Linked DNA regions of Homo sapiens: all the other regions are linked to region 2. Evidence: fine-mapped expression QTL. A gene starts in region 2. Each other region holds a variant in brackets. All regions are shown on one strand. Distances are from middle to middle. Region 1 holds the start of GCNA (germ cell nuclear acidic peptidase). Region 2 holds the start of OGT (O-linked N-acetylglucosamine (GlcNAc) transferase). Region 3 overlaps OGT (O-linked N-acetylglucosamine (GlcNAc) transferase).

Evidence for each region. PIP is the estimated chance that this variant, and not a neighbour inherited with it, causes the effect. A credible set is the group of variants that fine-mapping cannot tell apart.
Region 1: its variant is the best candidate, but not a certain one, in a credible set for the expression of OGT in aorta (GTEx, PIP 0.56).
Region 3: its variant is the best candidate, but not a certain one, in a credible set for the expression of OGT in sun-exposed skin (GTEx, PIP 0.70).

Annotation. Positions count from the first base shown.
Region 1 is chrX:71,577,480-71,579,979 of GRCh38, forward strand. GCNA (germ cell nuclear acidic peptidase) reads left to right here and starts at 958. Exons shown (of 13, transcript NM_052957.5): 1 at 958-1,043. RefSeq lists an enhancer at 1,165-1,806. The variant G/C (reference allele first, on the strand shown) is at 1,385.
Region 2 is chrX:71,531,988-71,534,692 of GRCh38, forward strand. It overlaps OGT (O-linked N-acetylglucosamine (GlcNAc) transferase), which reads left to right and starts at 1,117. Exons shown (of 22, transcript NM_181672.3): 1 at 1,117-1,349. The coding sequence starts at 1,313. RefSeq lists enhancers at 168-1,367, 868-1,207, 1,033-1,691.
Region 3 is chrX:71,552,315-71,555,019 of GRCh38, forward strand. It overlaps OGT (O-linked N-acetylglucosamine (GlcNAc) transferase), which reads left to right. Exons shown (of 22, transcript NM_181672.3): 6 at 2,199-2,278. Among named protein-coding and RNA genes, the nearest start is that of OGT, 21 kb to the left of the region's middle. The variant C/A (reference allele first, on the strand shown) is at 1,622.

The DNA of each region.
Region 1 (2,500 bases), 45 kb after region 2:
TGAGCCACTGTGCCCGGCCAGCTCTGCCACTTTCTAGCTGTGTGATCTCTAAAATGAGAGTGCTAACAGTTGCCTACTTTTTAAAGTGTTGTATGAATTAAGTCGTAAGACACTTGGAATAATGCTTAGCACAAAATAGTATCAAACGCAGGGACATTTTATGTGTGTTCTGTTACCCAAAGGCATACATTACGAAATATATAGATGCTCGCTGGAGAAACTGGCACAATCTAGAAAGCGCTGTTTTCCCCGTTTGTTTTTCTTGGTGTGTATGGAGTGAGTGCCAAAAAGCCTCAAGTAACCTTTTTTTATCTCCAGGGTTTGGAGGGTTCTGGAAGTAAACATCATAGTTCGCCGTTGCCAGGCGCTGTTGAGTTGCTGCCTTGCTCTTATCTAGGGGTCTAGATGGCCTTCCCTGCAACCCCCGCCCCCCTGCGCTCCCGCGTCCCCCCGCGCCCCGCCCTCCCCTCGGTGTTCCCGTCCACGCCCCTGCTCCCGCGCCTTCGCTCCAGTTCTCGTGCCCCCGCCCCTCCCCCCGCGCCCTTTCCCAGTGGTTGCAATAACGGACTTAGAGGTCTGGACAATTCAAGTAAGGAACAAGGCTCGCTTATCCAAGTTCTCGCAGGATAAAAGTTTGTTATGAACGATTTCACATGGTTTCTCTTTATCAGAAAGTTGTTAGGGACTTTTAATCGCAGAATTGGCCTCGGGTGCCCACGCTCTAGTATTGAAATGGCGGTTTTGGGACAAATAAGCAACATCCGTGGGAGTGGAAAGCGACAGACCTGATCCCGGAAGCGTTACAGCTAGGCGCCAAGTTCACAGGCGCGAAGTTCAAATTTGTCTTGTGACCACTGTGATAGGTGGGTACAGGGGAGCGCGGGCGAGCACACGTGAATTACTGCTACCGCCCCCTAGGTCCGGGCACTATAAAGGGGCCTGCGCCTGGCGTTGTTCATCGCAGTTGCTCCGGATCTTTGCACACACTCCACGGGCAGTTGGAGGTGAGCTGCTGCCGGCCACGCCAGAGGCTGCAACACCAGGTAGGTGACCGGCTGGTCGGACTGAGATGGGTGCTGAAGTGGTCCAGAGGTTAATCCTAATTGAGTGACTTAATTAAAATCAGGACCACTGTATACCTTGGACTCTGGTTGCCCGTGTAGGCCTGAGGTGGGAGTAGAGGAAGTGGCAGCGAGGGGAGAAGTGGAGGCGCCAGTGGTAGCATTGGGGGAGGTGGGGGCGCCCATGGTGGTGTAGGAAACATATGGTGGCGCCAGTGGCGGCATTGGGAGGGGTGGGGGCGCCGGTGGCGGCGTAGGAGCAGCTGGTAGTGCCAGTGGCGGCGTGGGGAGAAGGGGCGCTGGTGGCGTCATTGCAGATAGTG[G/C]GGGGCCTGGTGGTGGCGTAGAAGGAGGTGTTGGTGCCAGTGGCGGGTGGAGAGAAGTAGGGGCACCAGTGGCGGCGTTGGGGGAAGTGGGGGTGCCTGTGGCAGTGTCGGGGAAGTGGGGGTGCTGGTGGTGGTGTAGGAGCATGTGGTAGCACCAGTGACGGTGTGGGGAGAAGTAGGGGCACCATTGGCGGCCTTGGGGGAAGTGGGAGCGCTGGTGGTGGCGTAGGAGCGTGTGGTGGCGCCAGTGGCTATGTAGGAATACGTGGCGCCGGTGGCGGCGCGGGGAGAAGTGAGGGCGCTGGTTGCGGCACTGGGGGGAGGTGGGGGCCCCAGTGGTGGTGTAGGAACAGGTGGTGTCCCTAGTGGCGGGTGGGGAGAAGTAGGGATGCCAGTGGCAGCGTGGGGGGAGGTGGGGGTGCCAGTTGCGGCCTAGGAGTACTTGGTGGCGTTGGTGGCATAGGAGCACATAGTAGCGCTGGCGGTGTGGGGAGAAGTGGAGGCGCCGGTGGCCGCATTGAAGGTGGGGGTGCCAATGGGGGCGTTGAGGGAAGTGGGGGGTTCTGGTGGCGGCGTAGGAACACTTGGTGGTGGTGGAAGTGGCCTAGGAGCACGTGGTGGTGCTGGTGGGCGTGGGGAGAAGTGAGGATGCTGGTGGTGGCATTGGAGGTGGGGGTGCCAGTGGCTGTGGGGAGAAGTGGGGGTGCCCGTTGCAGCATTGGGGGGAGGTGGGAGCTAGTGGTTGTGGGTAGGGGTGTGTGTGTGGGGGTTGAGGTCTCTTTGGCTGAGGACTGAGTGGTGGTGGGAGACAGGAGTGGGGTAGGGCAGAAGTTGGATAGAAGTGTGGGGGAGTGGAAGCCTGCTTGGAAAACCGGTTGGGAGCAGTTGAAGGTGGCTGGAGGTGGTTGGAGGTGCGAGTGTGGGGGAAGGGTGGTGGGGTTGAGGCCTGATTGGTGGAAGACTGAGGTGAGAATGGTGGGGGTAGGGTCCAGACCTGATAGGAGGAAGGAGTTGGGGAGGGGTCAAGGCCTGTTTGGTCGAAGATTGGCTAGAGGCTGGAGGCAGGAATAGGAAGCGTGGAGGGGGTGGCCGGATTCATATAAGACCAGTGAGAAG
Region 2 (2,705 bases):
AATAAAAAGGCTCTCAGAGATCCAACTTGTAGCCTCCAGTGGCTTGTAATACTTTCTTGCTGATGTGGCAAGCTACCTTAAGTCGTTTCTAGAACAAGAGGTGAAGTATAAATACCAATGTGACAAAATGTCTGAACAGTAGACTTGAAACTGCAGGAAGATCGTAAGAACCGATTTGTTCAAGGAAGTAGAGGCAATTCATGACTCAATCTAGACGTGTGGTTTAGGCAGATGGCAAGTGAATTCATTTATCATTGTTGATCTGCTTTGAGCTCAGTGGAATCGCCGACTGTGACAATGTGCAGAGCTAGCTGGTGGAAATGAAGTCACAACTCGAGGAGAGTCATGGATTTTGACGAACGTGAATCACCTTTAACATTTTTATGGCTGCCTTCGGAGTGCAAACGCCCAGCATGTCCCTGAGTTATTAAACATTTGCCCTATCACCGTGGGCAGGAGTATTCTGAATACCAAAACGATTTTGAAATTTCAGGCTATACGGCCAACATTGAAGGTGTCTGCATTCAACTGGCCCTGTGAAAGCTTCAGTCTTTTTCATCGAAGTGCTGAAATCGATGGCCGAGTCACAATGAAGACGGGCTCAAATCGGAACCCTCTCGCTCCTCGTTTTGAGCAGCTGTCTTTGAGAGGCAATCTTCTGAATTGACTGGCTCAGAATTGATCCGTGAGAGTCGTAACCATCCGTTTTTGTACGAATACAGTTGATAAACTTTTTTAGACGCCTTTGGCATTTATGTTTAAAACGACACCACCTGCTAAGTAACAAACACTCTTCTTAATCGCGGTGGCAAAAACGTATCCGTCCCGTGTGTGTTTGTTTTTACCCTTCCGCTACACTCTTAAGAAACTTGGCCGCTTCCGCCCCAGAGAGTGCCCTAACCACGAGTCGGGTTGACAGGGCTGCTCGCATGCGCGGTCTCCACCGTGGTGTTTGTCGCAATGGGCGCTGCGCGGAGGACTACATGGAATCTCGACTTTGCAGCTTGAAGTCATTTTGTTGGCGGCGCTGGTTACCGGCTACCTCCGCGCGGGCACTTGATTGTAACAGAAAGTAGTTCCGGCCCATGTTGTTTCGGCCGAGGAGCCGTCGCCGCCATTTCAAGACCGTACTAGGTAGATGGTCAATTAGAGTTCCCAGGGTTTGAAGCCTGTAACTGCTGCCGCCGCTCAAGCCCTCCAGAGCATTGCTACGGCTGCTGCCCTTGTACTACTACCTCCAAATACGTTCTTGCTGGTAGTGGCGGCAGCAGGACCAATTACCTCTTTTTTGCTCTCCCTCGAGAAGCTCCAGATGGCGTCTTCCGTGGGCAACGTGGCCGACAGCACAGGTACCGGTGTCCCGTTCTACCTTGGCAGATGCCCCCTTGGGGTCTCGCGCCGTCCTCTACCTTGTATCACTCCTTCCCTCCCTTCCCTCGAACCATCCCCATTACATCAGTGACATTGCTAAGCTTTTCGTGGTCTACTGGCATCTGATCACATCGGGTTTTCCGCTGTTGTCCGCTTCCCGAACATTTCCTCCTCCTCCCTTGCTTGCTTTTTGCTGCCTTTCTTGCTTTGTTTTTATTTCGTAAATGTTCTAGCATTCCACTCTCTCCAGGCGCTTTTATCACACGTGCGCGCTTAGAATGTCGTGGAATGGACTGCATTGGAATCCCTGCCCTTTCACTCCTTTGCAGCGGTTTTCTCCCCTAATTCCAGCTCATCGCCTCTCCTTTTTCCCCTCCATCTCCTCCTTCATCTCCCCCCCCAGTCTTTTCCCCTTAGCCAGATTTGGTCCTTCTCTGCCAATCTAGGGCGGGGGTGCCGTTCCGATGTAATCATATCCTCACTTTGCATCACCCGAGGACGATCAAAAGCTCGTCGATGGTGCCACAAGTCACCTCGAGAAGAGGGGACATTGAGCAGCACCCTGCTAGGCAGTGCCTTTCTGGTGTTCTTTCGGTTGAGCGGTCCCGGTTTAGATTGGAAATTTCCAGGGGTTTCCTTTGCCATCGCCCAATTCCACCGCTGCCCTCAGCCTGGATTTCCCACCCTGTCCGCGGGGAACCACACCCTTCCCTTCGCGAGGTTGCCAGCCCTGTTCACTTCCTATCCTTGGGGGAGAAACCACCCCGATGCTGCTGCTTTGGCGTTGACCACCCTGCCCGCCCAATTCTCGCTTTGTGTTACTTTCTCGATGTATTCCTCCGCCGCCGCCTCTGGGTCTGCCATCCCCATTCTTCAGCCCAGTATCTCTTTATTCACAGGGTGTAATATTCTTTTAAGTTTCCATCCCTGCTTGAAGAGTTTGTAAAGCAACTGGAGTGTAGCTGCACAAGTACAAGGCGGTTGCCCTTTTAGACACTTCAGTCGCGAGCATTTGGTACTGAAAATACGAAAACAACCAAATTGTAGGAGTGTCCTTCAGCTGCCTTTCCATATTGAGGCGATTTGGGCGGAAGGGGGTGGGGAATTGGGCTGCGCTTCTGAGGTTTCCCGCGAGGTTATTTTTTGGTTGTTTCTCAGTTGAGATGTGTGGAGGGTTTTAGCTACTGTTCCTGGAAGTTGTGCTGTAAGTAGTAGGTGAATCGTCAATAGTGTCTTATCCGTAATTGTAGGGAGTGGGATTAATAATTAGTCCGTGCTCCTCTCCCCACGTCTCCACCGTGATTTTCAAAGGTTTAAGATTCTGTACTGGATTC
Region 3 (2,705 bases), 20 kb after region 2:
GGCACATTGACAAATTATATCTGTCTTATTTGGATCCTGACTCAGTTAATGAGAAATTGGAGCACTGAATGGATTTTTTTTTTTTTTTTTTTGAGACAGGGTCTCACTTGATCGCCCAGGCTGAAGTGCAGTGGTGTGATCTTGGCTCACTGCAACCTTCACCTCCCAGGCTCAAGGGATTCACTTGCCTCAGCCTCCGGAGTAGGTGGGACTACAGGCGTGCGCCATCATGCCCGGCTAGCTTTTTGTATTTTTAGTGGAGACAGGGCTTTGCCATGTTCCCAGGTCTTGAACTCCTGAGCTCAGGCAGTCTGCCTGCCTCGGCCTCTCAAAGTGCTAGGATTACAGGCATGAGCCACCACGCCCAGCTGATATTTAATATGAAGGAATTGCTGTCTTTTTTTTTTTTTTTTCTGTTAGGTATGATAATGGTATTGTGGTTAGGTTGGGAGGAAAAAGCATTCTTGTGTTGTCCCTGAGATACATATTGAAGTATTTTTGAATGGAATATGTCTGGGCTTTGCTTCAAAATGATCTGCGAAGAGGGGGAGTAAGTTGGAGTATAGATTAAATAAGATCAAACATGATATATGAATTGTTGAAAATGGATAATGGAGACTTGGACGTAATGTTCCTCTGCTTTTGTATATGTTTAAACATTTCTATTATAAAGTTTAAAAGTTCTTGGGGTGGACATCTATCACTATAGACAATCTAAATTAAATGCATCATGCCGTGTTTACTACAGAGTTGTCATCTAAGTGAAGATGAAGTGTTCTTTCTTTATTTTTTTTTGAGACAGAGTCTCGCTCTGTCGCCCAGGCTGGAGTGCAGTGGCACGATCTCAGCTCACTGCAGCTTCCGCCTCCCAGGTTCAAGCAATTCTCCTGCCTCGGCCTCCTGAGTAGCTGGGATTACAGGCGTGAGCCACCATGCCCGGCTAATTTTTTGTATTTTTTAGTAGAGACGGGGTTTCGCCATGTTGGCCAGGGTGGTCTTGAACTCCGGGCCTCAAGTGATCTGCCCGCCTTGGCCTCCCAAAGTGCTGGGATTACAGGCATGAGCCACCGCGCCCAGCAGATGAAGTGTTCTTTATCAGTCTTTAATAAACATACAATTACTCAGTGTCTTAATCAAATACCTTTTCGGTGTGTGTGTTTTTTTTTGTTTTTGTTTTTTGTTTTTGGAGACACAGTCTTGCTCTGTTGCCCAGGCTGGAGTGCAGTGGCGCAATCTTGGCTCACTGTAACCTCTGCCTCTCGGGTTCAAGCCATTCTCATGCCTCAGCCTCTCGAGTAGCTGGGACTACAGTTGCACATCACCATGCCCAGGTAATTTTTGTATTTTTAGTAGAGATGGGGTTTCACCATGTTGGCCAGGCTGGTCTTGAACTCCTGACCTCAAGTGGTCCGACCTCGGCCTCCCAAAGTACTGGGATTACATGTGTGAGCCACTGCACCTGGCCGGTGTTTTGATTGAAGTTTGCATTTACCATGCTGTAGGAGTATCTTTCTTGATCAGTGTTTCTCTTCCTTGGTTATACATGAGGAGCTTATAAAAGATCTGAATATCCTGACCCTATCTTCAGAGGGTCTGATTTAACTGGCCTGTGATAGAGCCT[C/A]GGTACCTTTTCTAGGAGGTAAATTCTTAATATATTGCCAAGGTTGAGAATCACTGCTCTAGACAACATGACAGCTATTTGGATGACACCGTGTAATGGTTAGTATTTCCTTGAAGTATTGTATCTTACTGTGTATACAGCTCTAATTGCATGTCTTAATAAGGTCTTGCTGAGCATGTAGTTTGTATGCATACAACTGAGGTATATATTTACCTTTTCAGTAAGAGTTTGCTGCCTCTTTTGCCACTATTTTTCAGAAGAGTTAGACTGGTTAATTGTGAATAAAATAGGGCCAATCATTAGAAGTGTTCAGTTTAATGAAATTGGAGCAGGCCCAATATTTAATTTTTCTCTTCAGGACCCATTTTGCTCATGAGAACATGAGGCATGAGAAGTTATTTTGATAATGTTGAGGTTTGTAAAAATAATGAGAAGACACTAAATAAATAATTGGTTTATTAAAATGAAATGTAATTGAAAGTCTGCAAGGACCTTGGAGTAAAAAAATTGTAATTGGGAAGTTGATCTGGTGAAATCCTAACTTGCTCTGAGTAACTAACTGTCTTGAAATTTTTAGGCTGTCACCCTTGACCCAAACTTTCTGGATGCTTATATCAATTTAGGAAATGTCTTGAAAGAGGCACGCATTTTTGACAGGTGAGAGAATGTTCTGTTTAATAAATTTTCTTGAATCTTTGTTGTATTGACACTTGACAGTTTGGACCGAAATGATGACAATAGTCCATTGAAGCATATTTGCCTTTTCTAGCACGTTGTTCTCTGCCCATGTCCTGTGTTGCCTTTTATTTATAGATGTTGTTCGTTGCCTGACTTTTTGTTGTTGGCTTTCCTCAAAGCCGTTATCCTTCTCATTGGGAGTTTAGTTGAAATTTTTTTATTGTTAAAATGGTTGAAATGATTCTTTCTTAGACTAAATTATTCCTTTGACCTGATTTTAGAAAGCAAAGTAAATCCAGACTTTTAAATTTTTTGTTGTTGTCAAAGGAAAGCCTATTTTTTATGTGGGAGTAGAAAACTTCCCAGTGTAAAGACACATTTTATAAAGGTGTGATTTTGGTTTGAG